Linked DNA regions of Homo sapiens: all the other regions are linked to region 2. The links come from fine-mapping of genetic effects on gene expression. A gene starts in region 2. Each other region holds a variant in brackets. All regions are shown on one strand. Distances are between the middles of the regions.

Region 1 (8,113 bases), 46 kb before region 2:
CATTATCCTGTAGTTCTGGAAGTCAGAAGTCCAGAATCAGCCTCACTAAAGTAAAGACGTCCAGGTTGCCTCTTGATGCTCTGGAGAATCTGTTTTCTTTGACTTTGCCAGCTTCTAGAGCCCACCTACATTCTTTAGCTAATGGCCTGTTCCTCCATCTTCAAATCTAGCAGCATAGGATCTTCTAATCTTAGTATCTCTCTTCATATCTCTCTCTCTCTCTCTTTCTCTCTCTCCCTCCTTCCATCCCTCCCTCCCTCCCCCCTTTAGTTATCACATTGCCTTCTTTGTCTTCAACCCTCCTGCCTCTCTCTAATAAGGACTCCTGTAATGACATTGACCCACCCAGATAATTCAGGATAAACTCCCACATTACAAGATCTTTAGCCTAATAATATATGTGAACTCTCTTTTGCCATGTGAAGTAACACATCTAAAAGTTACAGAAATTATAATATAGACATCTTGGGATGGCCATCTTTCAGCAGCCTACCAGCCCATCAAAGAGAGACATTACAGTAAAGCAAGAAAACAAAGCAAGAATAAACTCTGTGCTACTGGTTAGAGTCAGAGACACCCTTATAAATTCATATTTAGTGTAATATATACACAGATATAGAAATAAGTATGGACACGTGTATGTACATGCATAATATATGTATAAAGACATATATTATGTAGTTTTGTCTGCCAAAAGTGCCTAGAAGCAATAAGCACTCAGCACCCAGATCTTGGTTTTAAAATACCATTCTCCAATAAAAGGTAGTAGGGCTCCTTCAAGAAATGACTGTTTCTAGGGCTGGGACAAGGAAAATACAGAATGAACCCAGCGAATTTTGTAGTACCAAAAAGTACTCAAAACTCAAAAGGATAGAAACACATGAAGGTGATACAAGAGCCAATCTAAAAGAGCTCTCAAGATCAGCTGGCACAATTTGAGCAAGAAAATAATAGGGTAGTATTGGATTATAACCCAAACTATGAAATAAATATATGTAAGTACACACTGGTGTTAATAAATGACTGAATAAATAAACAGAAAAGGGGAGACAAATTTTCCTTACAGATGACTTCCAAATAATGTATGTATATACTCCCCCAGGAGGTGGAGCTTAATCCCCTTTCCCCAAAGGTGGCCTAGACTTAGTGACTTACTTCCTAAGAATATTAGGGAAAAGGGAAAATAGTAACTTTAGAGTGGCGAAACATGGCAAACACTACATTGACCAAGTGATGAAGACTAACATCACCAGTGATGTCATGTGATATTGTTTACCTCTGATATGATGCTGATATGGTTTGGATTTGTGTCCCCACCCACATCTCATGTCGCATTGTAATCCCCAGTGTTGGAGGTGGGGCCTGGTGGGAGTTGGTAAGATCATGAAGGCAGAATTCTCCCTTTGGTGCTGTTCTCATGATAAGAGTTTTTTATGAGATCTGGTTGTTGAAAAGTGTATAGCACCTCTGCCCTCTCTCTCTCTCTCTTCCTTCTGCTCCAACCATCTAAAACATGCCTGCTTCTCCTTCGCTTTCCGCCAAAGTTTCCTGAAGCCTCCCCAGAAGCCATTGTGCTTCCTGTGAAGCCTGCAAGACCATGAGCCAATTAAACCTCTTTTATTTATAAATTATGCAGTCCCAGGTATTTCTTTATAGCAGTGCGAAAATTGACTAATACAGATGTATTGAGAAAGGCACTTCATCTGCATGGTCTGTTTCCCCAAAATCCATTACTACAGTCTAATCATGCAGAAAAACATCAAACCCTGAATGGGGATCATTCTACACAATACTCCTCTGGACTGTCAAGGTCATAAAAAAAACAAGAAAAGACAGAAACTTTCACAGACTCGGATGGAGAGACATGACATCTAAATGAAATGTTGTACACTGGATCAGATCCTGAAAGAAAGAAAGGGCATTAATGGAAAATTGGTGAAATCCAAATAAAATCTGGAATTTAGTTACTAACAACATGTTAGTTAAGTAGTTAGCTTCTTAATGTACCATGGAGATGGAAATAGAAGTTGTTAACAGTGGGGGAAACTGGTAAGGAATATGTGGAGATTCTCTATATTATCTTTGAAATTTTTCTGTAAATATAAAATTATTCCAAAATAAAAGTTTATTTTTTAAAAAAATGGCTTACCTGATATTTCTGATCACCTGAATGATCTCATTCAAAAATACCAAGGCCTACATTAATTATATTAATGTACTGAAAATGTATATAGATTCAAAACAAAAGACAACTTTTAAAAAGTAAGCTTAAAGTGGTTTACTAGGCTGGGTGTGGTGGTTCACACCTGTAATCCCAACACTTTGGGAGGCCAAGGTGTACGGATCACTTGAGCTCAAGAGTTCAAAACCAGCCTGGCCAGATGGCAAAACCCCATCTCTACAAAAACAAACAAACAAAAAATTAGCTGGGCGTGGTGGCACACATCTGCAGTCCCAGCTACTCAAGAGGCACAAAAGTGGCTTGAGCCCAGGAGCCAGAGGTCACAGTGAGTAGAGACCATGCCACTGCACTCCAACCTGGGCGACAGACCGAGAGACTCTGTTTCAAAAAAACTAACAAACAAAAAACAGTGGTTCACTAGTAATGTTTAGTCAGGTTTATTATTTGAATCCTGAAGATTTATTAAGACTAGTAGAGCAATACTGGTATATGCTTGAGGGAAATCTTAGCCATTTTTTTATACTTGATATAAGAAAGTTTGATTCACTATTAATGTACTGTTAAAAGTTTCCTCACAAGACCCTTTAACATTACATTTGTCAATGACAGGAAAAGAAGAGCTATGAGACTTAAGGCATAATCACACCCTAAGCACAATCCATAAAAACTGATTTATCCAAGCTCTCATTAATAGAAAGATGTCCAACTATTATTATAGTAAAATATAAAAATATAGAAAAGGCAATATATACCTTCTACCACTTGCTACCATGTACATTGCAAAGAAAACTTCTCATCACTGGTGATTATCTAGAAGTTGAAGAGATCATTACTTGAAGTTTCTATCAGGAATTGTATGAACCAAACCAAGCAAAAAAACTAGTATTAAAAGTTACATATTTAAAATTTATGCCCAGGCACAGTGGCTCATGCCTGTAATCCCAGCACTTTTGGAGGGCGAGGGGGGTGAATCAATTGAGGTCATGAGTTCAAGAGCAGCCTGGCAATATATGAAACCCCGTCTCTACTAAAAATACAAAAATTAGCCAGGCATGGTGGTGTGCACCTATAGTCCCAGGTACTTGGGAGGCTGAGGCAGGAGCATCGCTTGAACCTGGGAGGCAGAGGTTGCAGTGAGCCAAGATCGTTA[T/C]CACTGCACTCCAGCCTGGGCCACAGAGCAAAACTCCATCTAAATAAATAAATAAATAAATAAACTTACATATATATAAACAAGCTGAAAGTTTTTATTGAAAATTTGGTCCAAGTAGATGTGGTCAGTGAAAAGAAAAAAAAAGAAAAAAAGGAAAATATTTTATTTACAAATTTTATAGAAATTTAAAATTTAATACATTTGAATTTTTGTTATGAATTTAATCATATTGTTATATTTTTCTTCTAATAAAAAAATAAGACATTTTTCAACAAAATCTATACAGATGCCTCCAAATCCCTTCTAGTTTACTCCACTATGTCAAACATCATTTTCTTAATGTACCATTTTCTAAGCACTGCCTTAAAGAACAGCACGTCTGTTCAGTTGATGAATCTCTATAATATCCTGGTGAAATTAAGTTACTCTAATTCAGTTTCTCCTCCAAGAATTGTTCTTAAAGATGAATATATTTAGAGCTTTAAAACTTTATGAACTCGGCTGGGCACAGTGGCTCATGCCTGTAATCCCAGTACTTTGGGAGGTCAAGGTGGGTGGATCATTTGAGGTCAGGAGTTCAAGACCAGCTTGGCCAACATGGTGAGACCACATCTCTACTAAAAATGCAAAAATTAGCCAGGCATGGTGGTGCACGCCTGTAATCCCAGCTATTTAGGAGGCTGAGGTAGGAGAATAACTTGAACCCAGGAGGTGGAGGTTGCAGGGAGCCAAGATTGTGCCACTGCACTCCAGTCTGGGCGACAGAGTGAGACTCTGTCTTAAAAAATAAATAAATAAAGGAAAACTTTATGAACACTCTTGAGAGGTTGATCCTATCCAATACAACTTGTCTGTATTATTCTAATTCTGTGCTCTCCTCAGTTCTCTAAACATGCCATCCCTGGGCAAGCATTTTTTTTTTTTTTTTTTTTTTTTGAGACAGGGTTTCTCTCTGTCACCCAGGCTGGAGTGCAGTGGTGTGATCATTGCTCACTACAGCCTCCAACTCTTAGGCTCATGCAATCCTTCCACTTTAGCTTCCCAAGTAACTGGGATTTCAGGCACACACCACAATGCCCAGCTAATTTTTTTTTTGTATTTTTTCATAGAGACAGGGTCTCCTTATGTTGCCCAGGCTAGTCTTAAACTCCTGAGCTCAAGCGATCCTCCCACCTCAGCCTCCCAAAGTGCTGGGATTACAGGTGTGAGCCACCATGTCCAGCCTTCTATTTTTCATAATAGTATTTACTACAACCACCAACTCAATTTACCCCTTGGTTTAATAAGATCTTCTCATATTTTTTAGAATAAAATTTGCCATCATTCTGAGGTTTGACTTTGGCTGCTTACTTTTTCCTAGGGTCTTGAAAGATAATATTAAGAAAACTACCACACTGGTTATGTTCTAACAGTATAACTAGAAATCCAAAGAAGTGGTTTACTAAAAGGCTAGATTAACACAGTTTTATCCTCAATTATATATTTTTCTATAAAACAGGAAAGTATAAACATCAAATACATGAAAAAACTGCATTGAAAAATTAAATCTAAACACTCAAGAAGAATTAGGCACTGTATTCACTAATCTAAACAGAATTTAATCTTTCTTGCATTATATTTTCATGGGTTTAAATAAGAAAGCAATTATTTTCACTTTCCTACTTTGACATAATAACCCCACAAAACAGCCTGGCATAAAAGTACTGACTTGGTGGCAAGAGACCCAGACTTAAGCCTAGGCTTACCACTTACCAGCTGTATGACCTTATTCATCTTCAAACCCTTGTATGGCTATATCCAATACTAGAGAAGGTGTCCCATAAACACTTATGACTTTAGGAAGTAAAGTTTTCCTCTTTGCTTGCCTGTGCTACAGCAACAGGCAAATAAATAAAAGGAAGGATATAGTTCTCCCTCCCAATAGTTCAACCATCTGGCAGGGCAAACAGAAAATGACCACACCAGAAAAGGAGTACAAAGAGAAGCAAAACTGGAGAAAATGAAAAGGATAGGGGGCTTATCCCCTCACTGGGATTCCATATATCCTGGGAAGCATTGCTTTTTCCGTATCCACACTGGCCAACTATGTACTCTCCCATTCAGTGGGACCATGCTCTAAAATCCCATCACCCTGGATCTATTTCTATATTTATCTGCTGAGATTCTGGTGTAACCTCCTCTACAGCCATCCTGCCCTGAGCAAAGATAAACAGGACCATGAAGCTTTTTCTGTTTGTTTGTTTGTTTATCCTATCAATATAAATATGTAAATGCATGAAAAAAATGTGAGAATCTAATCTTATAAATCTAAAGTAAGCAGGTATAGAAAAATATGCGTTCAGAGAATTGTAATCAACAACAGAATAATGTTTATTCATTAAATATTTATTGTGTACTATAAATTGACACTACACTAGAATTAGGCACACATTTTAGAAAGATATATTTTCTATCTAGAAGACACCACAGTATCGTAGGAGATCTTTATAATTTACAAATCACTTATACATTACATAATAAAAATGTATACATACGATTGCTTTATCCAGAACACAGTTCCCAATAAACACTGATGAAACTATGTATAGACTGAGATTTCAGTGTCTTTCTTGGTTTTTTAAGCAAGTTTATCTATGGGCTAAAAAATACCCTATCATCCAGTAAAAAGGTTACAATTCAAACCTCAACAAGTGTTTTCCAACCGGACCTTAACTGTGGCCTGGCCAGAAAGTGTTAGTAATAAAGCACTCAAAGTCAAACCTACTGCATTGCTTGTCCAAGAACAGACTAAACTGCGTATCAAGAAAATTTCCTTTAATACTATCCATTTGTCAAAACAAAGGTTACAGGCCAGGCACAGTGGCTCACACTTATAATCACAGCACTTTGGGAGATTGAGGCAGGAGGATCACTTGAATCCAAGAGTTTGAGACCAGCCTGGTTAACATAGTAAGACCTCATCTCTACTAATAATTTTTTTTTTTTTTTTTGAGATGGAGTCTCGTTCTGCCACCCAGGCTGGAGTGCAGTGGTGCGATCTCGGCTCACTGCAAGCTCCGCCTCCCGGGTTCACGCCATTCTCCTGCCTCAGCCTCCCCAGTAGCTGGGACTACAGGTGCCCACCACCAAGCCCGGTTAATTTTTTTTTTGTATTTTAGTAGAGACGGGGTTTCACCGTGTTAGCCAGGATGGTCGCGATCTCCTGACCTCATGATCCGCCTGCCTCGGCCTCCCAAAGTGCTGGGATTACAGGTGTGAGCCACTGCACCCGGCCTCTACTAAGAATTTTTTTTAAATTAGCCAGGCTTGGTGGCTAATGTCCCAGCTATGTGGGAGACTGAGGTAGGAGGATTGCTTAAGACCACGAGTTTATGGGTGCAGTGAGCTATGATCATTCCACTGAACTCTAACCTGAATAACAGAGCGAGACCCTGTTCCCCCAACCCCCAAAAAAGAGGTTACACAAATATGCTTGGGTATGCCATAGATACACTTACCCTCTATTGTAGCTTTAGTATCATTCTAAAATTATTTTTAAATGTCCATTTTGAAAGGTAATCCATGGAGTAAGGAGTCAACCTGAAAAGGTACATACTCTGATTCCAATTTTATGACATTCTGAAAAAGGCAAAAGTATAGAAACAGTAAAAAGATAGTGGTTTCTAGCAAGGAAGCCCTGGGAGGCATAAGAAAAAAAAATTTTTAATTAAAAAATGAAAAAAGATAGTGGTTTCCAGGGGTGAGGGAGGAGGGGAGATAAGGACACACAGGTAGAACACATAGGATTGTACAGCAATGAAACGATTCTGTATGATAGTTTAATAAATACATGTCAGTATACATTTGTCAAAACCCATAAAATGTACAACACTAAGAGTGAACTCCAATATAAACCATGGACTTGGAGTGATAAGGATGTGTCAATGTAGGCTCATGAATTATAGGAAGTGTACCACTCTGGGATGGGACATTGATAATGGGGAAGGTTGGGCATAAGGTTGGTGAAGAGGTATATAGAAACCCTCTGTACTTTCTATTCAATATTGCTGTGAACCTGAAACTGCTTTAAAAGACAAAGCCTATTTTTAAAATAACTTTTTTAAATGTAACCCAATAATAATATTGGCCAAAGCTGCACAACTAGGTTTACTTTCCTCTGGGCAGTGACAAACAGAAGCAGACAAGGTAAGTTTTCCACAAGGCCTTTTGCTAATAGAGAAGCAGTATGTGGACCAATATGTTGAGGCTCACATTCCTCAAATGATATGCTCTTTCATCTTCTCTTTTCTCCTATCATTTGCCTCCCCCACTGTGGACACATGAAACAGATACCTAATCTTTTCCCCTCTCTGCCACCATGAATAAAAAGATTCAAGCTGAACACAATAGTTGGCAAAGTCTAGAAGATGCTGGCATTATTAAAACTGTCTCTGCAAAGGCAATGCCCAAAGGAACCCCATTCTCCCAGGCCTAATCCAAAGGCAAAGTTGTTTTAACAGATTAGAAAAGAAAGTTGAAGGAGCAGAGTCACAACAGAACCTAGGTCCCTGAGTGCCAGTTTCGGGCTCTCTGCAGCAGCTCTGCCATGGTTGATTAGCAGGAGTTGGAGTCCCCTGAGAGCCAATTAGAGGAGGAAGTCAGGGTGGGGGAGGGAGGAGTGATTCCATCAACTCCCCATTAAAAGTGAGTGGATCCCACAGCACAGAGAGACAGTGACTCAAACTGTTGCATCAGCCAAAGTTCCAATACTAACTCCCTAAACGTGAGGAAGGGCAAAGGGA
Region 2 (8,113 bases):
GAAGAAAAGACCCTCCAGGTTAGAAAATGATATAAACAAAGACACAGAATCAGAAGTACATGTGGCCATGTTCATGGGAGAATAGACAGTTCAACCTGGATGAAACAGAAAGTTCCTCTACAAGTAATTAGTCAGAGATAAGGTTAGAAAACAGAGTAAAACAATGGACACTTAAATACCAGGTTAAGGGGGTTAGACTTCAGCTAGTCAATAGCAGGAATCTTTAAAGATACCTGAGCAAAAAGGCAGATGAGAGGATAAGGTTAAATGCATGAAGTAATGATTTAGAAAGATAGCCATGGCCATGGTATTATATAAGTGGATTTGAAAGTAAAAGAAATTAGAGGCAGAAAGTCAGATTACTGCAATAGTTCAAGTAAGTATGCTCTTTCATTTCATGCCATTTGCTATAATCAAATTTTAGGAAAAGTGGCTTAGGGAATGAAAGGTTGCACAGGGGCCCTGAGAAGTAGTATTACGTTGTACTACCCTATAGCAGTAACAGATAGGATACCAAAGAGTCAATGAGGAGGGAGCAAAGGTCAATCACATTTCACTGAAGGATGGGGGTTGTACAATCTCTAGGGCTCATACCCACTACTTCTTCCATCTGCTGTAGGGTTTTCTCCATCTCCTTCTGCACATCCTGTTGCTTCCTCCCAGCATCCTCAACACTATGTGTCTCGAAATAGCAGTCTCGAAATGAGTAGAGCTGATCCACGAGTTCCTAAAAAGTATGACAATGGAACCATTAAGTGGAAAGATCACTGGATAGGGAAACTTGAAATTGGCTAGCCATACCAGCTCTTGGTCTAGAAATACCAATTCTCTTTCTCACCTATGAATGGCACAATAGGCAGGTGGACAGGTTTACTAAAATGCCACAAATCATGAGGAAAAGCAGCCAGTACCCCAGGCCAGCTCTCATGGTCCCATGTTGTCCCATGCCAGTGTCTCTATTGTGATGACCATTTTCTCTCCCTGCCTCAGCAGGGCTTCTAATATGACTAAGCACTTCACATACCACAGTCATGAGGAGGGAAACACTGCAACTTAAGATAAACCAAAAGTTAGTAAGATCATTCTATATGGTCCTGGTCCTCAAAGAATAACACTTTGAAATTTACCCTTAAAGTTGGACTTCTCAACTAAAACCATTTTATCCCTGATTTTTCATATGCTGAGATCTGAAAATACAACACAACCTTTGTGAATATAATAAACATGTTAGAGAGTCATTGTTTTCCACCACAAACATACCAATTTGAACTTGGTAACTTTGGTATCTTTGCAGCATTTTGTTCTTTTAAATGCTTATTGTGGTTTTGTTTAGTTTGATTTTTTTGTCAAGTCATCTTCTGGCTGCCTTGGATTTTTTACAAATAAATATTCTCTTTCCTCTTAAATGCCTCTGAGTCTTCCTGTCACACCAGGCAAAGCTTTTCTACTACAGGTCAAGCATCCCTAATGCAAAAATCTGAAATCCTCCAAAATCTGAAACTTTTGAAACGCTGACACCACAAGTAGAAAATTCCACACCTGACACACAGTCAAAATGCGGTCAAAACGTTGTTTCAGGCACAAAATTATTAAAAATATTGTATCAAATTACTTTCAGCCTATGTGTATAAAGTGTAAATGAAACAATTTTTTTTTTTTCTTTTTTAAAAGACAGGGTCACCAGGCGTGGTGGCTCATGCCTGTAATCCTAGCACTTTGGTAGTCCAAGGCAGACGGATCATGAAGAGATCGAAACCATCCTGGCCATCATGGTGAAACCCGGTCTCTACTAAAAATACAAAAATTAGCCAGGCATGGTGGCGCACACCTGTAGTCCCACCTACTCGGGAGGCTGAGGCAGGAGAATCGCTTGAACCTGGGAGGCAGAGGTTGCAGTGAGCCAAGATCATGCCACTGCCCTCCAGCCTGGCAACAGAGCAAGACTCCGTCTCAAAAAAAAAAAAAAAAGAGTCTCGTAGGTTGCCCAGGCTGGTCTCAAACTCCTGATTTCAAGCAATGCTCCCACCTCAGCCTCCCAAAGTGCTGGGACTACAGGCATAAGCCACCAAGTTTCATATTTAGATTTGGGTCCCATCCCCAAGTTATCTCATTATGTATATGCAGATATTCCAAAATTCAAAAAAATCCAAAATCCAAAAAACTTCGAGTCCTAAGCATTTCAGATAACAGATATCCTATTCTTTCCTGAAACTAAATAGATAGCAGCAGAAAGATATAATCACTTCCCTTCGAGTGTAATCAACAATCTTCACAACACATCCTGAATTCATCCACCTGTCTCCATCCCACTATGACCATTCCTGGATTACATCAGCTTCATTACTTGCCTGGACTGCAAGAGCTTCTTAACCAGTCATCTTGTTTCTGTTCTCTCCCATTCTCCTCACTGTAGTGGGAGTGATCTTATAAAAAACGTACATCATATCACAAACCTTCAAATAGTTTCCCATTGCAGACAGAATAAAATCCAAGTCCTTATCATGACCTAGAAGACTGTATGAGCTGACCTACCACCACCCATCCTGACACAAACTTCACCTCTCACCATTCTCTCTCCTACAATACTCAAGCCAGAGTTGCCTTCATGCAGTTTCTCAAACCCATCAAGCTCAGCCCACCTGGAAGACCTTATGCCTGGACACTTTCTCCAGATCTCTGCATAACTTATTCCTCATCATCATTTAGATCTTAGGTCAAATATCAATTCCAGAAAGGTTTTCCCTAATTACTCAACCCAAATGAATCCATTCCTTCTCTCCTCTACTGTTATATCATACTCTTATTTTTCTTCATACTTATTTAAAATCATGTGGCCTATCATTAATTGTCTATTGTCTGCCTCCACCACTGAAATGTAAGCTCCAGGATGGAAAGGCCTTTAATCTGTTTTGTTTCGAGCTACACCTGAGCACCAGAACGGGACTTGGGACATGATAGGCTCTAATTCACTACACTTGATTGAATTAACTAACTAACTATCCCTGTTCTAACAAATACATATGTGCTATACTTAATTTAAAATCCTATCCAGAATGAAGGGAACAGACTAGCACCCTCTGCAAATTTTATTGTATTATATCCAAGACCCAGCCTGCAGAGACTCTGATTTTAACAGTTTAGCAGAACTCAAAATTCTACATTTTTAACAGGCACCCCAGATGACTGTAATGAAACTGTCTGTAAAACACACTTTGAGAAATATCCATTTATACACTCTTTTTACACTAAAATGTCTTTAACAATGAAATCAAAGTTTACCACCATCTCCATGAACAGCAACACCATTATCTAATCCTTTTCCTCTTCTCTACTTCACTCCTTTATTCCATTCCTGCACCGACCCCACCCCAAGATAACGGAAGTATCCTCTCCCAAGCTGCTTAGGACATTTACCACAAATGAACCTAGGAAAAGACAATTCTCATAAAAAATTACAACCAATTTCCTTTTGTCCTGCAATCAACATGGCTGCAAATTAAGAGTTTTAGAGAAGGGCTTATTGATTGGTTTTAGTTGTTAAACCAAACATTCAAGAAGTTGTTTGGTTTTATTGTTTGGTTTTGTTTTCCTCTGGACTGAATGTTTTTAGAAACTTATTTTTTCATGGCAAAATCAATACATGTAAGTTGTTAAAATTCAAATAGATACATGTAAAAAAAAGAAAGTACAAAATTACCCCAAAGAACCTCAGTGATAACCACTGATTTGTATACCTTTTCAGATTTTTTTCTGTGCATATACAAACATATATACACAAATAATGTTTCTAATATAGAACCAGAATTGAGAATCTCTGATTTCAGCCAGTCACAGTTAGGGAATAAAATGAAGTTAATCCAAATCAGCTGGAACACTCTAAAAAGTGTTACTATTTTAATGTACCCAAGAACAAAGAAATTTCACCAGTATTTAAATTTGTGCGTTAAACACCTTTAGGCAAGTTACAAGCCTGTCATAGTTCTAATATTTAAGTTACAGGCTGCCTTAGAACGAAGAACTGAGTTCCTGAGGTGTAAGGAAAATCATGGGTTCTTAAAGGCAAAGAGCCAAGCAACTAGTTAACGCCTCCCTACCAAGTCCAAAAGACTAGTCTTACCTGTGGACTATGTGGAGTCTGGACCCCTCTGCATCAGACCCCAAAGTGGAATTACACAGGTTGAAAGAAATCAAAACTGAAATCCTAAGGGGAGTAACCAGGACACTTGCAGTGCAGGTCATTAGCGTGATTGTTGCCAAATTCAAAGCAGAAAGGTGTTAAATGGCTTTTGTAGGGATCAAAACAACATGTGACAGTAGTTCATGCAGATCTGCCACACACATGTATATGCTATTCGCTATGGATGAATCGAGAAAACAACGTCCTCTCTAAAAATGTACATGAACAGTTAGGAGCAACAAATCTTCTTCCATACAGGACTGAAATTAACCGCAGTCAGGTCGGCAGCAGGAGGTTCCAACGAGGCTCCCTGGCTGGCTGCGGCTGCACCCTCGAGGGTTGTTATAGTAACCACACAGACGCACGCAGCTTCGCGTGTGTGCCGAGGAATTCACGGGCAGTACATAAACTGGACTCCCTGCTTCATTCGGAGTAACAAAAACACATACAGAATTTAATCTACGGCCCCACCTGCAATTTCTGCAAGATCGGCTTGACTTCTTCCTCTTCATCAGCCATCATCTCCCGGCCACTCCACCCCCAACTTTATAACCACAGAGACGCACGCCCTCTCTCACCGCGGAACCACAGCGACATCTGGCGTTCTGGAGGCTTTTCTGCCCCAGAAGGGCTTTGCTTCAAACCGACTTAACCATTTATTTCCACAGAGATGCTCTACAATCACTTGTGAGTTCATAAACTTCTTTCTTTCCCAGATCCTGGAAACAAAATGTCCTCAGCTTAATTTCTATATTCTTGTTTCATGTCTTCCTACTTATTTATACTAAGATTATAATACTCCATAAAGAAGAGAGTTTAAGAAGTGCACACCTGTGTTGTTTGAAATTTCGAAAGCCATGTAGTACAATAGCTACTTTACTCAATCTTTTCCAAACTTTGCAGTAATTTTCTATGTATGATTAATTTTATCATTTTAATGCACTATCTTAATAAATACTACACTTGGGATGGCTCATAAAAACCACCATGCTCTACACTAACAATGCCTCCATATTTATAGACAACATCCAGAAGGATATATAAGAAAGGATGACTGTCTCTGCAGAGGGAAACACAGAAACTGGGGAACTGTGGGTGAGCGAAGAAAATTTTCACTGCCTGCCCTTTTGAATTTTCTTGCCATCTATATGTATCACCTATTCAAATATAAACATTTTTAAATAAAAAATTATTTGCTTCTACATAGTCTCTGGAAAGAGACACAAGACACTGGCAAGACTATCGCTTACAAAGAGCAGAAGTGAGTGGCTGGAGCAAAAATGAGTGACCAGGGAACTGGGGTAGACTTTTCACTCTATGCCTTTTTTGTAACTTTAAAGTTTGTACCTTGTGAATATATTAAACTTCTGAATAAATCTTTTAAAGTGTCATGTAATATTCCTGGCAGTTTTGCTTTACTTTTTTAGTTTTAATTACAGCTTCAAGCTGATTCTGTGAAACTAACAAAGAAGTAAAACGTTCAAGGCAGAAATCATGAATATACATAAAATCATTTCCTCAAATCATTTTCCAACATAAAGGAAATAGTTTGTATTGTAACCTATAAAATCTATGTCGTTAGCTGTAAAATAGGGAGGGATGTTTTAAAAATTTTTTTTTGAGATGGAGTCTCACTGTGTAGCCCAGGCTGGAGTGCAATGGCGCCATCTCGGCTCACTGCAACCTCGGCCTCCCAGGTTCAAGCGATTCTCCCGCCTCAGCCTCCCGAGTAGCTGGGGCTACAGGTGCATACCACCACGCCCGGCTAATTTTTTGTATTTTTAGTAGAGACGGGATTTCACCGTGTTAGCCAGGATGGTCTCGATCTCCTGACCTCATGATTCACCCGCCTCAGCTTCCCAAAGTGCTAGGATTACAGGCGTGAGCCACCACACCCGGCCCTAAAACTTTAAAATTTTTCATCCTCTTTCTCAGACATTTTAACTTTGGTGCACACGAGGCTGGGCACGGTGGCTCACACCTGTAATCCCAGCACTTTGGGAGGCCAAGGCGGGCAGATCACTTGAGGTCAGTTCAAGACAAGCCTGGCCAATGTGGTAAAACCCCATCTCTACTAAAGATACAAAAATTAGCCAGGTGTGGTGGCATGCACCTGTAATCCCAGCTACTTGGGAGGCCAAGACAGGAGAACCACTTGAACCCAGGAGGCAGAGGTTGCAGTGAGCCAAGATGCTGCCACTGCACTCCAGCCTGGGCAACACAGCAAGACTCCATCTCAAAAAAACAGTAATAAATAATTTTGGTGCACATTAAGAATAATTTTTAAGAGATTTTATACTCTATATTCCTAGTGAAGGAAACACTACTTGCTTTTCAATTATGTAAAGCAGGGGTATTTAATTGCCTTTCTACAATGACTAAATATATCTTCAAATGATTTCAGTATAATTTTTATTACCTAAAAAACAATGGGATTTGACATTTAGGGTAATTCCATTGTTAACACATCTTAAACCATTAAGAATCAATCCTAAAATTTAAGAGTTAGAAAAGGCTGTAAGGATAACTTAATTCAGTCCTTCATTTTACAGATACAGAGACTAAGTCCAAGAAAGTTCAAACTAAGTAGAAACCAGAACCCAGATCTTCTGCCTCTCCAGCCAGTATGCTTTCAAATCTTTCCTCTAACAGGACATAAAGTTACTGAGAATGTCCTTCAAATTTCTATCATGGCTCTACATTTTAAATAAATAAATGCATAAACAATTTAATTCCCATAATAATAGTCAGAAATACTCACTAAATAAAGGAAAACAATAAATAAATCTTTTATTTTAATACAATCTCGAGATCAATAACACATTGGTAAACTTTCTGCAGAAGTGCATTCCTAAATAAGTAAACCCAAGGCAATAGTTGACAAAAAGGTAAAGAAGTAGCTTTATTTTAAAATACAGTCTTCCTTTGGTATCTTTGGGGGATTGGTTCCAGGAACCCTCATGGATACCAAAATCCTTGGATGTTCATGTCACTTTTATAAAATGGCATGGTATTTGCATATAACCTACAGATTCTCCCAAATACTTTAAATCACCTCTAAATTATTTATAATACCTACAATGTAAATGCTATCCAAATAGTTGTTATATAGTATTGGTTTTTAATTTGTATTTTTTTATATTATTTTTTCTCAAATATTTTTGATATATGGTTGGCTGAATCTGCAGAAGCAGAACCTATGGATACAGAGCACCGACTGTAAATGCCAAAAAAATTAACTTTAAAAAATAACTTCATCAACGTGAGTTATTTTTAAATACAAATAGGGACTGAACATACATGCATCAAATTGTACTCTCGTTCACTGACATAAGCACACCTCCAAACAATACGAAGGTAAATACATAAATATATACAAATAAATACACACACCCAAATAACAAGCTACACATCACCCACCATTTTCCAAGACCAAAATTTTCACATAAACATACTGGCAAATACAGCAAAATATCAGTGTACATTAACATACTTACATATACAGATATGCATAAATACCAGAATTCAAAGCAACATGTAGCATATAACACAGGTACTTAAGGCATAAACACCACAGCTCAGTGAGAAACAGCACAGGGAGAAAGAGTTATCTATTGAAACAAATACTATTGTGACCTTCTCACACTAGGGATGAAAATTCAGCAGTTCACAATGGAATTGAGACTAATAAAATGCTTATGCTTTAAATAATAGAAACAAAGAAACCAGACTCTAAACCACTCCCCACTGCCAATGAGTTTGTTATGTTGATAATGTGAAAACAACTTCAGAGACTTAAAAGCACAGAGAAGCTGGGGAGTCCTATCTAGAAAAAAGATTTGCTACCCTGCCCCTGCCCCTGCCTCTGCCTCTGCCTCTCCCTCTCCCTCTCCCCTCTCCCCTCTCCCCTCTCCCCTCTCCCCTCTCCCTCTCGGT
Region 3 (8,113 bases), 67 kb before region 2:
TTGGGTGCATATATATTTAGGATAGTTAGCTCTTCTTGTTGAATTGATCCCTTTACCATTATGTAATGGCCTTCTTTGTCTCTTTTGATCTTTGTTGGTTTAAAGTCTGTTTTATCAGAGACTAGGATTGCAACCCCTGCCTTTTTTTGTTTTCCATTTGCTTGGTAGATCTTCCTCCATTCTTTTATTTTGAGCCTATGTGTGACTCTGCACGTGAGATGGGTTTCCTGAATACAGCACACTGATAGGTCTTGACTCTTTATCCAATTTGCCAGTCTGTGTCTTTTAATTGGAGCATTTAGTCCATTGACATTTAAAGTTAACATTGTTATGTGTGAATTTGATCCTGTCATTATGATGTTAGCTGGTTATTTTGCTCGTTAGTTGATGCAGTTTCTTCCTAGTCTCGATGGTCTTTACATTTTGGCATGATTTTGCAGCGGCTGGTACCAGTTGTTCCTTTCCATGTTTAGTGCTTCCTTCAGGAGCTCTTGTAAGGCAGGCCTGGTGGTGACAAAATCTCTCAGCATTTGCTTGTCTGTAAAGTATTTTATTTCTCCTTCACTCATGAAGCTTAGTTTGGCTGGATATGAAATTCTGGGTTGAAAATTATTTTCTTTAAGAATGTTGAATATTGGCCCCAACTCTCTTCTGCTTGTAGGGTTTCTGCCGAGAGATCTGCTGTTAGTCTGATGGGCTTCCCTTTGAGGGTAACCCGACCTTTCTCTCTGGCTGCCCTTAACATTTTTTCCTTCATTTCAACTTTGGTGAATCTGACAATTATGTGTCTTGGGGTTGCTCTTCTCGAGGAGTATCTTTGTGGTGTTCTCTGTATTTCCTGAATCTGAACGTTGGCCTGCCTTGCTAGATTGGGGAAGTTCTCCTGGATAATATCCTGCAGAGTGTTTTCCAACTTGGTTCCATTCTCCCCATCACTTTCAGGTACACCAATCAGACATAGATTTGGTCTTTTCACATAGTCCCATATTTCTTGGAGGCTTTGCTCATTTCTTTTTATTCTTTTTTCTCTAAACTTCCCTTCTCGCTTCATTTCATTCATTTCATCTTCCATCACTGATACCCTTTCTTCCAGTTGATCACATCGGCTCCTGAGGCTTCTGCATTCTTCACGTAGTTCTCGAGCCTTGGTTTTCAGCTCCATCAGCTCCTTTAAGCACTTCTCTGTATTGGTTATTCTAGTTATACATTCTTCTAAATTTTTTTCAAAGGTTTCAACTTCTTTGCCTTTGGTTTGAATGTCCTCCCGTAGCTCAGAGTAATTTGATCATCTGAAGCCTTCTTCTCTCAGCTCGTCAAAGTCATTCTCCATCCAGCTTTGTTCCGTTGCTGGTGAGGAACTGCATTCCTTTGGAGGAGGAGAGGCACTCTGCTTTTTAGAGTTTCCAGTTTTTCCATTCTGTTTTTTCCCCATCTTTGTGGTTTTATCTACTTTTGGTCTTTGATGATGGTGATGTACAGATGGGTTTTTGGTGTGGATGTCCTTTCTGTTTGTTTTCCTTCTAACAGAGAGGAACCTCAGCTGCAGGTCTGTTGGAATACCCTGCCGTGTGAGGTGTCAGTGTGCCCCTGCTGGGAGGTGCCTCCCAGTTAGGCTGCTCAGGGGTCAGGGGTCAGGGGTCAGGGACCCACTTAAAGAGGCAGTCTGCCCGTTCTCAGATCTCCAGCTCCGTGCTGGGAGAGCCACTGCTCTCTTCAAAGCTGTCAGACAGGGACATTTAAGTCTGCCGAGGTTACTGCTGTCTTTTTGTTTGTCTGTGCCCTGCCCCCAGAGGTGGAGCCTACAGAGGCAGGCAGGCCTCCTTGAGCTGTGGTGGGCTCCACCCAGTTCGAGCTTCCCGGCTGTTTTGTTTAGCTAAGCAAGCCTGGGCAATGGCGGGCGCCCCTCCCCCAGCCTCGCTGCCGCCTTGCAGTTTGATCACAGACTGCTGTGCTAGCAATCAGCGAGACACCGTGGGCGTAGGACCCTCCGAGCCAGGTGCGGGATATAATCTCGTGGTGTGCCATTTTTTAAGCCTGTCGGAAAAACGCAGTATTCGGGTGGGAGTGACCCAATTTTCCAGGTGCCGTCCGTCACCCCTTTCTTTGACTTAGGGAACTCCCTGACCCCTTGCGCTTTCCAAGTGAGGCAATGCCTCTCCCTGCTTCGGCTCACGCACGGTGCGCGCACCCACTGACCTGCACCCACTGTCTGGCACTCCCTAGTGAGATGAACCCGGTACCTCAGATGAAAATGCAGAAATGGCCCGTCTTCCGCGTCGCTCACGCTGGGAGCTCTAGACCGGAGCTGTTCCTATTCGGCCATCTTGGCTCCTCAAGCTATATATTTATATATTATATATAAATATATAGTATATATATTTATATATTATATATAAATATATAGTATATATATGAATATATAGTATATATATTATATATAATATATAGTATATATATTTATATATTATATATAAATATATAGTATATATATTATATATAAATATATAGTATATATATTTATATCTTATATATAAACATATAGTATATATATTTATATTATATAAATATATAGTATATATATTTATATATTATATATAAATATATAGTATATATATTTATATATTATATATAAATATATAGTATATATATTTATATCTTATATATAGTATATATATTTATATATTATATATAAATATATAGTATATATATTTATATCTTATATGTACTATATATATTTATATATTATATATACTATATATATTTATATATTATATAGTAAATATATTTATATATAATATATGGTATATATATTATATATTATATATAATATATATACCATATATTATATATAGCATATATAAATATATACCATATGTTACATTTGGCACATATAAAATATATACCATATATTACACATGGCACATATAAAATATATACCATATATTACACGTGGCACATATAAAATATATACCATATATTACACGTGGCACATATAAAATATATACCATATATTACACGTGGCACATATAAAATATATACCATATATTACACGTGGCACATATAAAATATATACCATATATTACACGTGGCACATATAAAATATCTACCATATATTACACGTGGCACATATAAAATATATACGATATATATCACGTGGCACATATAAAATATATACTATATATTTCACGTGGCACATATAAAATATATACTATATATTACATGTGGCACATATAAAATATGTACTATATATTACATGTGGCACATATAAAATATGTACTATATATTACATGTGGCACATATAAAATATGTACTATATATTATATGTGGCACATATAAAATATGTACTATATATTATATGTAGCATATAAAAAATATATACTATATATTATATACCACATATATAAAATATATACTACATATTATATATCGCATATATAAAATATATACTATATATTATACATATACTATATAGTATATATTCATATAGATATAAATATATCTATATATATTTTATATATTTATATTTATATTTATATACATATATTATATATATAATATATTTAAAATATATATATTATCAAATATATATAATATATTATATATAATATATATAAAGTATATAAAGATATATACTTTATAGTATATATCTTTAATATAAATATATATACTTTATAGTATATATCTTTAATATAAATATATATACTATATATACTATACATACTATATAGTATATATAGTATATATACTATTTATACTATATTATATATAGTATATATACTATATATATATATATACTATATATATACTATATATATAATATAGAATATATTATATATAATATAGAATATATTATATATAATATAGAATATATTATATATAATATAGAATATATTATATATAATATAGAATATATTATATATTACATATTATATATATAAATATATTACATATTATATATAATATATTATATATTATATATAATACGTATTATACATAATATATTATATATTATATATAATACATATTATATACATATTATATATATTATATATATTATATATAATATATATTATATATAAATATATACTATGTATATTTATATAGTATATATAATAGATGGTATATATATGCTACATAAATATATACTATATAAATATATAGTATAATTATCTAAATTATATAATTATAATTATATAATTATATAATTCTTAATTTATAATATATAAATTTATATATTTATATATAAATAAATATATAAATTTATATATTTATATATAAATAAATATATAATATATAATTATATATTCTATATAAATATAATATATAATTTATAAATATATAAAAATATAATTATATAAATATATAAATATATATACTATATAAATATATACTATGTATAACATACACTATATAGTATATAAATATATACTATATATAATATATAGTATATAATATTATATATAATATTACATTATATATATTTATTATAAATATATATTATATATATTACATATATTATATAAATTATATATATTTATTATATATTATATATAATCTATATATAGTATATATATTATATATAAATATATATACTATCTATTATATATAAATATATATATACTATCTATTGTATATATTATAGATGAGCCCCAGTGTTGGAAAGAGAACGCACTCCAGGGAAACTTGGGTAAGCCACTGAAACCATATGGGGAGAAACACAGGGCTTTACAGTAATCCCTGAGTGAAAACATAGATGTAATACTGATTCGCATGTTAAACCTCTCAGCAAATTCTGAGAAAAGCCTCTGGAGTCTCCAGGAATGAAGGCAGGGCAATAAACCACATATAATGCCCTCACCTGGAGTTTTCCTCAACAGAGCCAGTGAAGAGGAGATGCTTGATGCTGAGGTTATGCTCAATTCTGCCTCATTTCTGCCGTGCGCACCGCTGTCTCCA[A/T]ACTGAGCCAGAAAAGCCATGATTGTAGGTAAGAAACCACTGCTATGATATGCTACAGAGTCTCTTTGACTTTATAAATCTGATTAGGCACTGTTTCTCTGCAAAGACTCAAAGGAGGCAGTATAATAGTATAGTATAAAAGTTCCATATGTGAATCCAGGACACATATTTATTGGGTAAAAAGTCATGCCCCTCTCTGAGCCTCATTTGTAAAATGAAGTTAGATCATTATACCATTTCTTCTAATTCTATGATTTTATGGTCATTAACAACCATCTTTCTGAAAACAATCTTACTTTCCAGGAATAATCAGGTGGTGTGTTCCTTCTCTCAGGACACCTGGGAAGACAATATACTAAGTGAGGGGCATTCAACAGAAGGCTATTAAATCAAGCTATCACACTTATGGTAGGTGGACTGGTGGGTTGATTGGTTGGTTGGTAGTTTCTTGTACTGGAAAGGAGTACAGTACATGAAAGAGCTGGTTTCGGCCGGGCGCGGTGGCTCATGCCTGTAATCCCACCACTTTGGGAGGCCGAGGCAGTCCGATCACGAGGTCAGGAGATCCAGACCATCCTGGCTAACACGGCGAAACCCCGTCTCTACTAAAAATACAAAAAATTAGCCGGGCGTGATGGCGGGCGCCTATAGTCCCAGCTACTCAGGAGGCTGAGGCAGAAGAATGGCGTGAACCCGGGAGGTGGAGCTTGCAGTGAGCCGAGATCGCGCCACTGCACTCCAGCCTCGGCGACAGAGCGAGACTGTCTCAGAAAAAAAAAAGAAAAAGAAAAAGAAAGAGCTGGTCTCCTAGGATTGTAGCTCAAATAATGATATATCTCAAAAATCAGGAGAAACAGTATGTTTGTGTCATAAAATAATGAAGATTCTATTCTAATTACCTAACTATTCCCAGACAGCGTTTTGGAGACTTTGGAGGGTGGTGTTATATAAAACTTTGTGGAAACAGTTTATTCCGTCAATGCGAAAACTCTGAAATTGATTACTCGGGTCTTTCTATTAAGCTCCCCAGCTTTTGATCATTCCATTACTTATCTACACTTCTCCAAAGGCTTCAGAAAAAACAATGTTGCTGCTAATAAAGCACTTGCAGAGTAGGGTAGTAGAAAAGACGAAGTGTAGTGTAAAGTTGTCAGTGTATAATGGAGAATGTCCTAAACTGTTATTCTCATCAAGCAGGCATTCAGAACAAAGGGCGGGAGGCTCAGATCTCACAATTCTGGTTCCCAATTTAAGTCTGAGCCTGGACTTGTTCTCTGACCTGTGTATAGCAGAGAAAGGGATGTATTTATGCTTCGTAAACAACAATCTGGAAATCACCTATTGAGCACCTTATTCAAGGAAGATGGTAAACAAATGCCTTTTAAATTCAGCATTGATTGGAAAGCTGGACAACTTTAGAACTCAGATGCTCCAAATTTCCCTTTTTATGCATCCTTAAAAACTACCAAAGAACTAGTGATGTTGAGATTCAAATCTTCGTTCCCAAGAATACCTGATCCTTCCTTCAACTTCTGTGTTCTTTGTTGCCTTTCACATTTTTCTTTTACATTTCTGACAAAGTTATGACTGGTGACCTGCAATAAACAAGACAAGAGATCTAAACTTAACAAGAAACTCAATATTGAAACTACCTTCTTTTTTTTTTTTTTTTGAGGTGGAGTCTCGCTCTGTCACCCAGGCTGGAGTGCAATGGTGTGATCTCGGCTCACTGCAACCTCCACCTCCTGAGTTCAAGCAATTCTTCTGCTTGGCCTCCCAAGTAGCTGGGATTACAGGCACGCACCACCACACCCAGCTAATTTTTGTATTTTTAGCAGACAAGGGTTTTCACCATGTTGGCCAAGCTGGTCTCAAACTCCTGACTTCAGCGATCTACCCACTTTGGCCTCTCAAATTGCTGGAACTATAGGCATAAGACATTACGCCCAGCCAAAACTACCACTTTTTTAAGACTTAATCAGCACATTTTAAGTATTAATCAAGTATAAGATTACTGTTGTTTAAACACATTTGTGTATTTTATTTAATTCTTAAATACATAAACTTGTTGCTACTGAAAAGTACATACCTAGTCAAATATTTGAAAATGTCCTTACCTTCCTTTCAGTAAACAAAATTCTAATACATAGGATTGCAGATGAAGCCCCATTTCATCTCAGATTCTTTTAGAAAATCCCTTTGTTTTCACCACCGAAAAAGCTCACTAAATAAACTAAATTTTTGTATAGAAAACATCATTTTCCTTATTTCATCTACATGGTATCTGATTACAAAAAGTAAGATAGTTCCTTTTTGTATAGTATGTGTAAAAAACATAAAAATAAACACTGCCGTTCGTTAGAGATGTTTTTAAAATATTATCATGGAGTTGTATCTCCATGCAGCAGTCAATCTATTTTGTTTTGTTCAAACATCTAAACCAATTTTATTTTTTTCAGTTATCCTCAAAATGTCTTTTCTAACAACTTGTGCTAAATAAGAGAAAATTGATGAACTTGTGCTAGAAAACCCATAATCAACATTGGAAAAACAAATCAAAAGCTGAAAAGGTCTTCTCAAGCATCCAAGGAAAAGAAAGAAAATAAATTTGTCTGGTTCTGCCACTAGTGTCTGGAGAGGTGGCCTGCCCCTCCACACCTGTGGGTATTTCTGGTCTGGTAGGACGAGAGACTGAGAAAAGAAATAAGACACAGAGACAAAGTATAGAGAAACAACAGTGAGCCCAGGGGACCGGTACTCAGCACACCAAGGACCTGCACCGGCACCGGCCTCTGAGTTCCCTCAGTTTTTATTGATTATTATATTCATTATTTCAGCAAAAAGGAATGTAGTAGGAGAGCACGGTGATAATAAGGAGAAGGTCAGCAAAAAACATGTGAGCAGAAGAATCTATGTCATAATTAAGTTCAAGGGAAGGTACTATGCCTGGATGTGCACGTAGGCCAGATATATAGTTCTCTCCACCCAAGTATCTCAGTGAAGTAAAGAATAACAAGGCAGCATTACTGCCAACATGTCTCGCTTCCCACCATAGGGCGGTTTTTCTCCTATCTCAGAATTGAACAAATGTACAATCGGGTTTTATACCTAGACATTCAGTTCCCAGGGGCAAGCAGGAGACAGTGGCCTTCCTCTA
Region 4 (8,113 bases), 35 kb before region 2:
ATGCAGCCAAAAAACACATGAAAAAATGCTCATCATCACTGGCCATCAGAGAAATGCAAATCAAAACCACAATGAGATACCATCTCACACCAGTTAGAATGGCAATCATTAAAAAGTCAGGAAACAACAGGTGCTGGAGAGGATGTGGAGAAATAGGAACACTTTTACACTGTTGGTGGGACTGTAAACTAGTTCAACCATTGTGGAAGTCAGTGTGGCAATTCCTCAGGGATCTAGAACTAGAAATACCATTTGACCCAGCCATCCCATTACTGGGTATATACCCAAAGGACTATAAATCATGCTGCTATAAAGACACGTGCACACATACGTTTATTGCGGCACTATTCACAATAGCAAAGACTTGGAACCAACCCAAATGTCCAACAATGATAGACTGGATTAAGAAAATGTGGTACATATACACCATGGAATACTATGCAGCCATAAAAAATGATGAGTTCATGTCCTTTGTAGGGACATGGATGAAATTGGGAATCATCATTCTCAGTAAACTATCGCAATAACAAAAAACCAAACACCACATATTCTCACTCATAGGTGGGAATTGAACAATGGGAACACATGGACACAGGAAGGGAACATCACACTCTGGGGACTGTTGTGGGGTGTGGGGGGGAGGGACAGCATTGGGAGATATACCTAATGCTAGTTGACGGGTTGGTGGGTGCAGCACACCGGCATAGCACATGTATACATATGTAACTAACCTGCACATCGTGCACATGTACCCTAAAACTTAAAGTATAATAATAAATAAATAAATAAATTAGCCAGGCATGGTGGTGCATGCCTGTAATCCCAGCTACTTGGGAGGCCGAGGCAAGAAAATCACTTGAATCTACGAGGTGGAGGTTGCAGTGAGCCAAAATTGTGCCACTGCATTCCAGCCTGCAACAGAGATCCTGTCTCAGAAAGAAAAAGAATACGTATATCTTGACCAAGTAAGGTTTGTACCAATAACACAAATTTGATTCATTGATTGAAAGTTGAGTACTCTTATTCACTGCATTGACAGGTTAAGGAACAGAAAACAATCATTTGCCATGTCAATAAATACAGAAAAAGCATTAGATAGAAAAAGATAAATTAGGTAAAATTTAAAATTTTTGCTAAAAGCTCATAACAAACTTAGTGTCTAAGAGCAATTGTATATAAAGCCACATAACAAACATCTTAATTTGACAAGAAAATGTTGAAAGTATTTTCCTTAAGGACAGAAACAAGACAAAGACGCTTGCTATCACCATTTCTATTCAGCATACTAGAGGTCCTAACTAGTACAGGGGAAAAAAACTAAACAAAAGCTAAAAGGATTGCAGAAGACCCCAAGTGGTCATTATTTATATACAGAAAACCCAAAGGAATCATCAAATTATTAGAATGAAAGAGTTCTAAAAAGGCTATAGCTGCAAAAACTAAATAAAATACTAATTGTATTTCTATTCTGAAGCACAGTTAGAAAATTTAATTCTTAAAAATGATACTACTTACGATAGCAGCATAAACTATAAAGTGGCCAGGAATAAATCCAATAAAAGCCATAAACAAACTTTCTGGAGAAAGTATACTATTATATCAAAAGACTAAACCAGAAAGAAATAGAAATCCTGAACATAACAATTTGAAAAAGTAGTAAAATTGAATCAGTAATAAAAAGCTTCCCAAGAACAACTAAAAATCCCAGAACTAGATGAACTCACAGCTGAATTCTATCTAATGCAGAAAGAATGACTGGTACCACTCCTACTGAAACTGCTCCAAAATATCAAGAAGGAGAAAATCTTCCCTAATTCATTCTATGGAGTCAGTATCCTCTTGATACTAAAGCCAGGTAAGGACACAACTAAAAAAGAAAACTACAGATCAATATCTCTGATGAATATAGATGCAAAAATCCTCAGCAAAATACTAGCAAACCAAATCCAACAGTACATCAAAAAGATGATACATTATGATCAACTGGGTTCTATTGCAGAGATGCAAGGATGGCTCAACATATGTAAATCAATAAATGTGATTCATCACATAGACAGAATTAAAAAACAAAAACCCTACGATCATCTCAACAAATGTGGAAAAGAATTTGATAAAATTCAGCCTCCCTTCATGATAAAAACCCTCAACACACTAGACAGAAGAAACATACCTCAAAATAATAAAGGACATTTTTGCCAATGTGGGGAAAAGAAAGAGAGATCAGATTGTTACTGTGTCTGTGTAGAAAGAAGTAGACATAGGAGACTCCATTTTGTTCTGTACTAAGAAAAATTCTTCAGCCTTGGGATGCTGTTAATCTATAACCTTACCCCCAACCCCGTGCTCTCTGAAACATGTGCTGTGTCCACTCAGGGTTAAATGGATTAAGGGCGGTGCAAGATGTGCTTTGTTAAACAGATGCTTGAAGGCAGCATGCTGGTTAAGAGTCATCACCACTCCCTAATCTCAAGTACCCAGGGACACAAACACTGTGGAAGGCCGCAGGGACCGCTGCCTAGGAAAGCCAGGTATTGTCCAAGGTTTCTCCCCATGTGACAGTCTGAAATATGGCCTCGTGTGAAGGGAAAGACCTGACCGACCCCCAGCCCGACACCCGTAAATGGTCTGTGCTGAGGAGGATTAGTATAAGAGGAAGGAATGCCTCTTTGCAGTTGAGACAAGAGGAAGGCATCTGTCTCCTGCCCCTCCCTGGGCAATGGAATGTCTCGGTATAAAACCCGATTGTATGTTCCATCTACTGAGATAGGGGGAAACTGCCTTAGGGATGGAGGTGGGACATGCAGCAGCAATACTGCTCTGTAAGGCATTGAGATGTTTATGTGTATGCATATCTAAAGCACAGCACTTAATTCTTTACCTTGTCTATGATGCAGAGACCTTTGTTCACGTGTTTATCTGCTGACCTTCTCTCCACTATTATCCTATGACCCTTGACAAATCCCCCTCTCCGAGAAACACCCAAGAATTATCAATAAATACTAAGGGAACTCAGAGGCTGGCGGGATCCTCCGTATGCTGAACGCTGGTCCCCTGGGTCTCCTTATTTCTTTCTCTATACTTTGTCTCTGTGTCTTTTTCTTTTCCAAGTCTCCCGTTCCACCTAATGAGAAACACCCACAGGTGTGGAGGGGCAACCCACCCCTTCATGCCAAACCACAGCCAGCATCATACTGAATGTGGAAAAGTTGAAAGCAATTCACCTAAGAACTTAAGTAAGACAAGGATGCCAACTTCCACCACTTTTATTTAACATAGTATTAGATGTCACAGCCAGAGCAACCAGGCAAAAGAACGAAATAAAAGGCATCTGTGTTAGGCTGTTCTTACATTGCTATAAAGAAATACCTGAGACTAGGTAATTTATAAACAAAAGAGGTTCACTTGGCTCAGAGTTCTGCAGAGTGTCCCAGCATGGCTCCAGCATCTGCTTCTGGCGAAAGCCTCAGAACCTTTACAATCATGGCAGAATGTAAAGCAGAAGCAGACATATTATTGGTGAGAGTGAGAGCAAGAAAGAAGGAGAAGTGTCACACTCTTTAAACAACCAGATTTCATGAGAACTCACTGTCTCAAGGAAAGCACCAAGTTATTCATGAAAGATCTGCACTCATGACCCAAACACTTCCCACCAGGCCCCACCTACAACATTGGCAATTAAATTTCAATATGAGATGTGATTGGGACAAATATGAAAGCTGTATCTTTCCACTCCGGCCCCTCAAATCTAATATCCTTCTCACATTGCAAAATATAATCATCTGCTCCCAATAGTGCCCAAAACTCTTAACTCATTCCAGCATCAAACCCAAAGTTCGAAATCTCAACTGAGACTCATCTCCTTCCACCTATGACCCTGTAAAATCAAAGC[G/A]GGTTATCTAATCCCAAGATACAATGGTAGTACAGGCATTGGGTAAACATTACCATTCCAAAAGGGAGAAATTGGCCAAAAGAAAGGGGTAATAGTTCCCAAACAAGTCTGAAACTCAGCAGAGGAGTCATCAACTCTTAAAGCTCCAAAATAATCTCCTTTGACTCCATGTCCCATATCCAGCCCATACTGATGCAAAAGATTGGCTCCCAAGGTCTTGGGCAGCTCTGCCCCTGTGGCTTTGCAAGGTACAGCCCTCACAGCTGCTCCCACAGGTTGCAGTTGAGTGTCTGTGGCTTTTCCAGAAGCAGGGTGCAAGCTGCTGATGGATCTATCATTTTGGTATCTGGTGGGCAGTGCCCTGGTAGCGACTCTGTGTAGGGGTTCCAACCCTACATTTACCCTCCTCACTACCCTAGTAGAGGTTCTCCATGAGGGCTCCACCTCTGCAGCAGGCTTCTGCCTAGGCACCCAGACTTTCTCATATATCCCCTGAAATCTAGGGGGAAGCTGCCAAGTCTCCTTCACTCTTGCAATCCATATGCTCACAGACTTAACAAAACATGGAGGCCACCAAGGCTTATGGCAGCTTGCACTCTCCAGAGCAACAGCATGAGCAGTACTTGGGGTCCTTTGAGCCAAGGCTGGAGCTGGAGCACCCAGGAAGCAGGGAGCACTGTCACAAAGCTGCACAGGGCAGCAGTACTCTGGGACTGGCCCACGAAACCATTCTTTCTTCCTAGGCCTCTGAACCTGTGGTAGGAGAGGCTGTCTCAGAGATTCCTGAAATGCCTTCAAGGTCTTTTTTCCCCATTGTTTTGGATATTAGCACTTGACTCCCTTTTATCTATGCTGATCTCTCTAGCAAGTGCTTGCTCCACAATCTGCTTGGATTCTTTCTCTGCCATATGTCCAGGCTGCAAAATTTTCAAACTTTCACACTCTGTTTCCCTTTTAAATATAAGTTCCAACTTTAAGTAATTTTGCTCCCACATCTGATCATAGGCTGTTAAAAGCAGCCAGGCCATATCTTAAACAATTGCTGCTTAGAAATGTCATTCACTTCATACCCTAAGTTATCACTCTTAACTTCAAACTTCCACAGATCCCTATGACATGAACATAATACAGCCAAGTTCTTTGCTAGGGTGTAACATGGGTGACCTCTACTCCAGTTCCCAATAAATTCCTTATTTCCATCTGAGACTGATATGGTTTGGCTGTCTTCACCCAAATCTCATCTTGAAGTGTAGTTCCCATAATCCCTACATATTGTGGGAGGGACCAGGTGGAGATAATTAAATCATGGGGGTGGTTTTCCCCATTCTGTTCTCATGATAGTAAGTTTTACAAGATCTGATGGTTTTAATAGGGGCTTCCCCCTTTGCTGGATTCTCATTCTCCTTCCTGCTGCCATGTGAAGAAGGACATGTTTTCTTCCCCTTCTGCCATAATTGTAAGTTTCCTGAGGCTTCCCTAGCCATACAGAACTGTGAGTCAATTAAACCTCCTTCCTTTATAGATTATCCAGTCTCAGATATGTCTTTATTAGCAGCATGAAAACAGACTAATACAGTAAATTGGTACCTGAGAGTGGGGCACTACTGTAAAGATATCCAAAAATGTGGAAGCGAGTTTGGAACTGGGTAACAGGCAGAAGTTGGGACAGTGTGGAGGGTTCAGAAGAAGACAGGAAGATGTGGGAAAGTTTGGAATTGCCTGGAGGCTTGTTGAATGGCTTTGATCAAAATGCTATAGTGATATGGACAATGAAGTCCAGGCTGAAGTGGTCTCAGAAAGAGATGAGGAATTTGTTGGGAACTGGAGTAAAAGTGACTCTTGCTATGTTTTAGCAAAGAGACTGGCAGCATTTTGCCCCTGCCCTAGAGATCTGTGGAACTTTGAACTTGAGAGAGATGATTTAGGGCATCTGGTGGAAGGAATTTCCAAGAAGCAAAGCATTCAAAAGGTAACTCGGGTGCTGTTAAAAGCATTCAGTTTTATGTATTCATGAAGATATGGTTTGGAATTGGAACTTACGTTTAAAAGGGAAGCAGAGCATAAAAGTTCAGAAAATTTGCAGCCTGACAATGCAATAAAAAAGAAAAACCCACTTTCTGAGGAGAAATTCAAGCTGGCTACAGAAATATGCATAAGTAACGAGGAGCCAAATGTTAATCACCAAGGAAACGGGGAAAATGTCTCCAGGGCATGTAAGAGGTCTTCACTGCAGGCTCTCCCATCACAGGCTCAGAGGACTAGAAGAAAAAAACGGTTTTGTGGGCCAGGCCTAGGGCCTTGATGCTATGTGCAGTCTAGGGACTTGGTGCCGTGTGTCTTGGCCATGGCTACACGGGGCTAATGTGGAGCTCAGGCCATTGCTTCAGAGGGTGCAAGCCCCAAGTCTTGGTGGCATACATATGGTGTTGGGCCTGGGGGTGCACAGAAGTCAAGAATTGAGGTTTGGGAACCTCCACCTAGATTTCAGAAGATGTATGGAAATGCCTGGATGTCCAGGTAGAAGTTTGCTGCAGGGGTGGAGTTCTCAGGGAAAACCTTTGCTAGGGCAGTGCAGAAGGGAAATGTGGGGCCAGAGACCCCACACAGGGTCCCCCCAGGACACTCCCTAATGAAGCTGTGTGGAGAGGGCCACAGTCCTCCAGATCCCAGAATGGCAGATCCACCAGCAGCTTGCACACTCAATGCCAGCCCATGAAAGCAGCCAGGAGGGGGGCTTTACCCTGCAAAACCACAGGGGCAGACCTTCCCAAGGCTGTGGGAGCCCACCTCTTGCATCACCCTGACCTGAATATGAGACATGAAGTCAAAGGAGATTATTTTGGAACTTTAAGGTTTAATGACTGCCCTATTGGATTTCAGACTTGCATGGGGCCTGTAACCCCTTTGTTTTGGCCAACTTCTCCCACTTGGAATGGGTGTATTTACTCAATGCCTGTACCCACATTCTATCTAGGAAGTAACTAACTTCCTTTTGATTTTACAGGCTCATAGGCAAAAGGGACTTACTCGTGTTGTCTCAGATGACACTTTGGACTCGGACTTTTGAGTTAACTCTGAAATGGGTTAAGACTTTGGGGGACTATTGGAAGGGCATGATTCGGTTTTGAAATGTGAGGACATGAGATTTAGGAGGGGTGAGGGGTGGAATGATACAGTTTGGCTATGTCCTCACCTAACTCTCATCTTGAATTTTAGTTCCCACGTGTCATGGGAGGAACCTGGAGATAATTGAATCATGGGGGCAGTTTCCCCCATCCTGTTCTCATAATAGTGAGTTAGTGCTCACAAGGTCTCATGGTTGTATAAGGAGCTTCCCCCTTTGCTGAATTCTCATTCTCCTTCCTGCCACCATGTGATGAAGGACGTGTTTGCTTCCCCTTCCACCATGATTGTAAGTTTCGGAGGCCTCCCCAGCCATGCTGAATGGTGAGTCAATTAAACCTCTTTTTTTTACAAATTACCCAGTCTTGGGTACCAGTATTTTGGTCACAACCATTGAACCAGTCTCTGAGAAGTTCCAAACTTTCCCTTATCTTCCTGTCTTCTGAGCCCTCTAAACTCTTCCAACCTCCGCCCATTACCCAGTTGAAAGTTGCTTCCACATTTTCAGGTATCTTTATAGCGATGCCCCACTCCTGATACCAGTTTTCTGTTAGGCCATTCTTGCATTGCTATAAATACCTGAAACTGGGTAATTTATAAAGAAAAGAGGTATAATTGGTTCAGAGTTCTGAAGGCTGTATCAGCATGGCTCCAGCACCTGCTTCTGGTGAAGTCTTCAGAAACCTTACAATCATGGCAGAAAGTGAAGTGGGAGCAGTCACATCACATGGCAAGAGCAGGAACAGAGAGTGGTGGGGAGGTGCCACACACTTTCAAACAGTCAGATTTCACAAGAACTCACTATCTCAAGGACAGCACCAAGCCATCCAGAAGGGATCCACCCCCATGACACAAGCACCTCCCACCAGGCCCCACCTCTATCATTGAGGATTACATTTCAATATGAGACTTGGAAGGAACAAACATCCAAACTATATCAGCATCCAAATTGGAAAACAAGAAGTCAAACTATTGGGTTGGTGCAAAAGTAATTGCAATTTTTGCCATTTGCCACAATTACTTTTGCACCAACACAATATCTCTGTTCACTGATGATATAATCTTATACCTACAAAACCCTAAATACTTTTATTAAAAAAC

The links.
Region 1: its variant is fine-mapped to the expression of TTC5 in monocytes (BLUEPRINT, PIP 0.95).
Region 3: its variant is fine-mapped to the expression of TTC5 in whole blood (TOPMed, PIP above 0.99).
Region 4: its variant is fine-mapped to the expression of TTC5 in whole blood (INTERVAL, PIP above 0.99).

What each region holds. Positions count from the first base shown.
Region 1 is chr14:20,254,784-20,262,896 of GRCh38, forward strand. It overlaps LOC124903279 (a long non-coding RNA gene), which reads right to left. Exons shown (of 2, transcript XR_007064057.1): 1 at 6,830-8,113; 2 at 1,602-1,902. Among named protein-coding and RNA genes, the nearest start is that of OR11H4, 20 kb to the left of the region's middle. The variant T/C (reference allele first, on the strand shown) is at 3,333.
Region 2 is chr14:20,301,239-20,309,351 of GRCh38, forward strand. TTC5 (tetratricopeptide repeat domain 5) reads right to left here and starts at 4,713. Exons shown (of 10, transcript NM_138376.3): 1 at 4,649-4,713; 2 at 595-727. The coding sequence starts at 4,699. RefSeq lists an enhancer at 4,619-4,858 and a silencer at 7,639-7,839.
Region 3 is chr14:20,233,968-20,242,080 of GRCh38, forward strand. It overlaps OR11H4 (olfactory receptor family 11 subfamily H member 4), which reads left to right and starts at 5,319. Exons shown (of 2, transcript NM_001004479.2): 1 at 5,319-5,364. The variant A/T (reference allele first, on the strand shown) is at 4,957.
Region 4 is chr14:20,266,724-20,274,836 of GRCh38, forward strand. LOC124903279 (a long non-coding RNA gene) reads right to left here and starts at 2,172. Exons shown (of 2, transcript XR_007064057.1): 1 at 1-2,172. The variant G/A (reference allele first, on the strand shown) is at 3,890.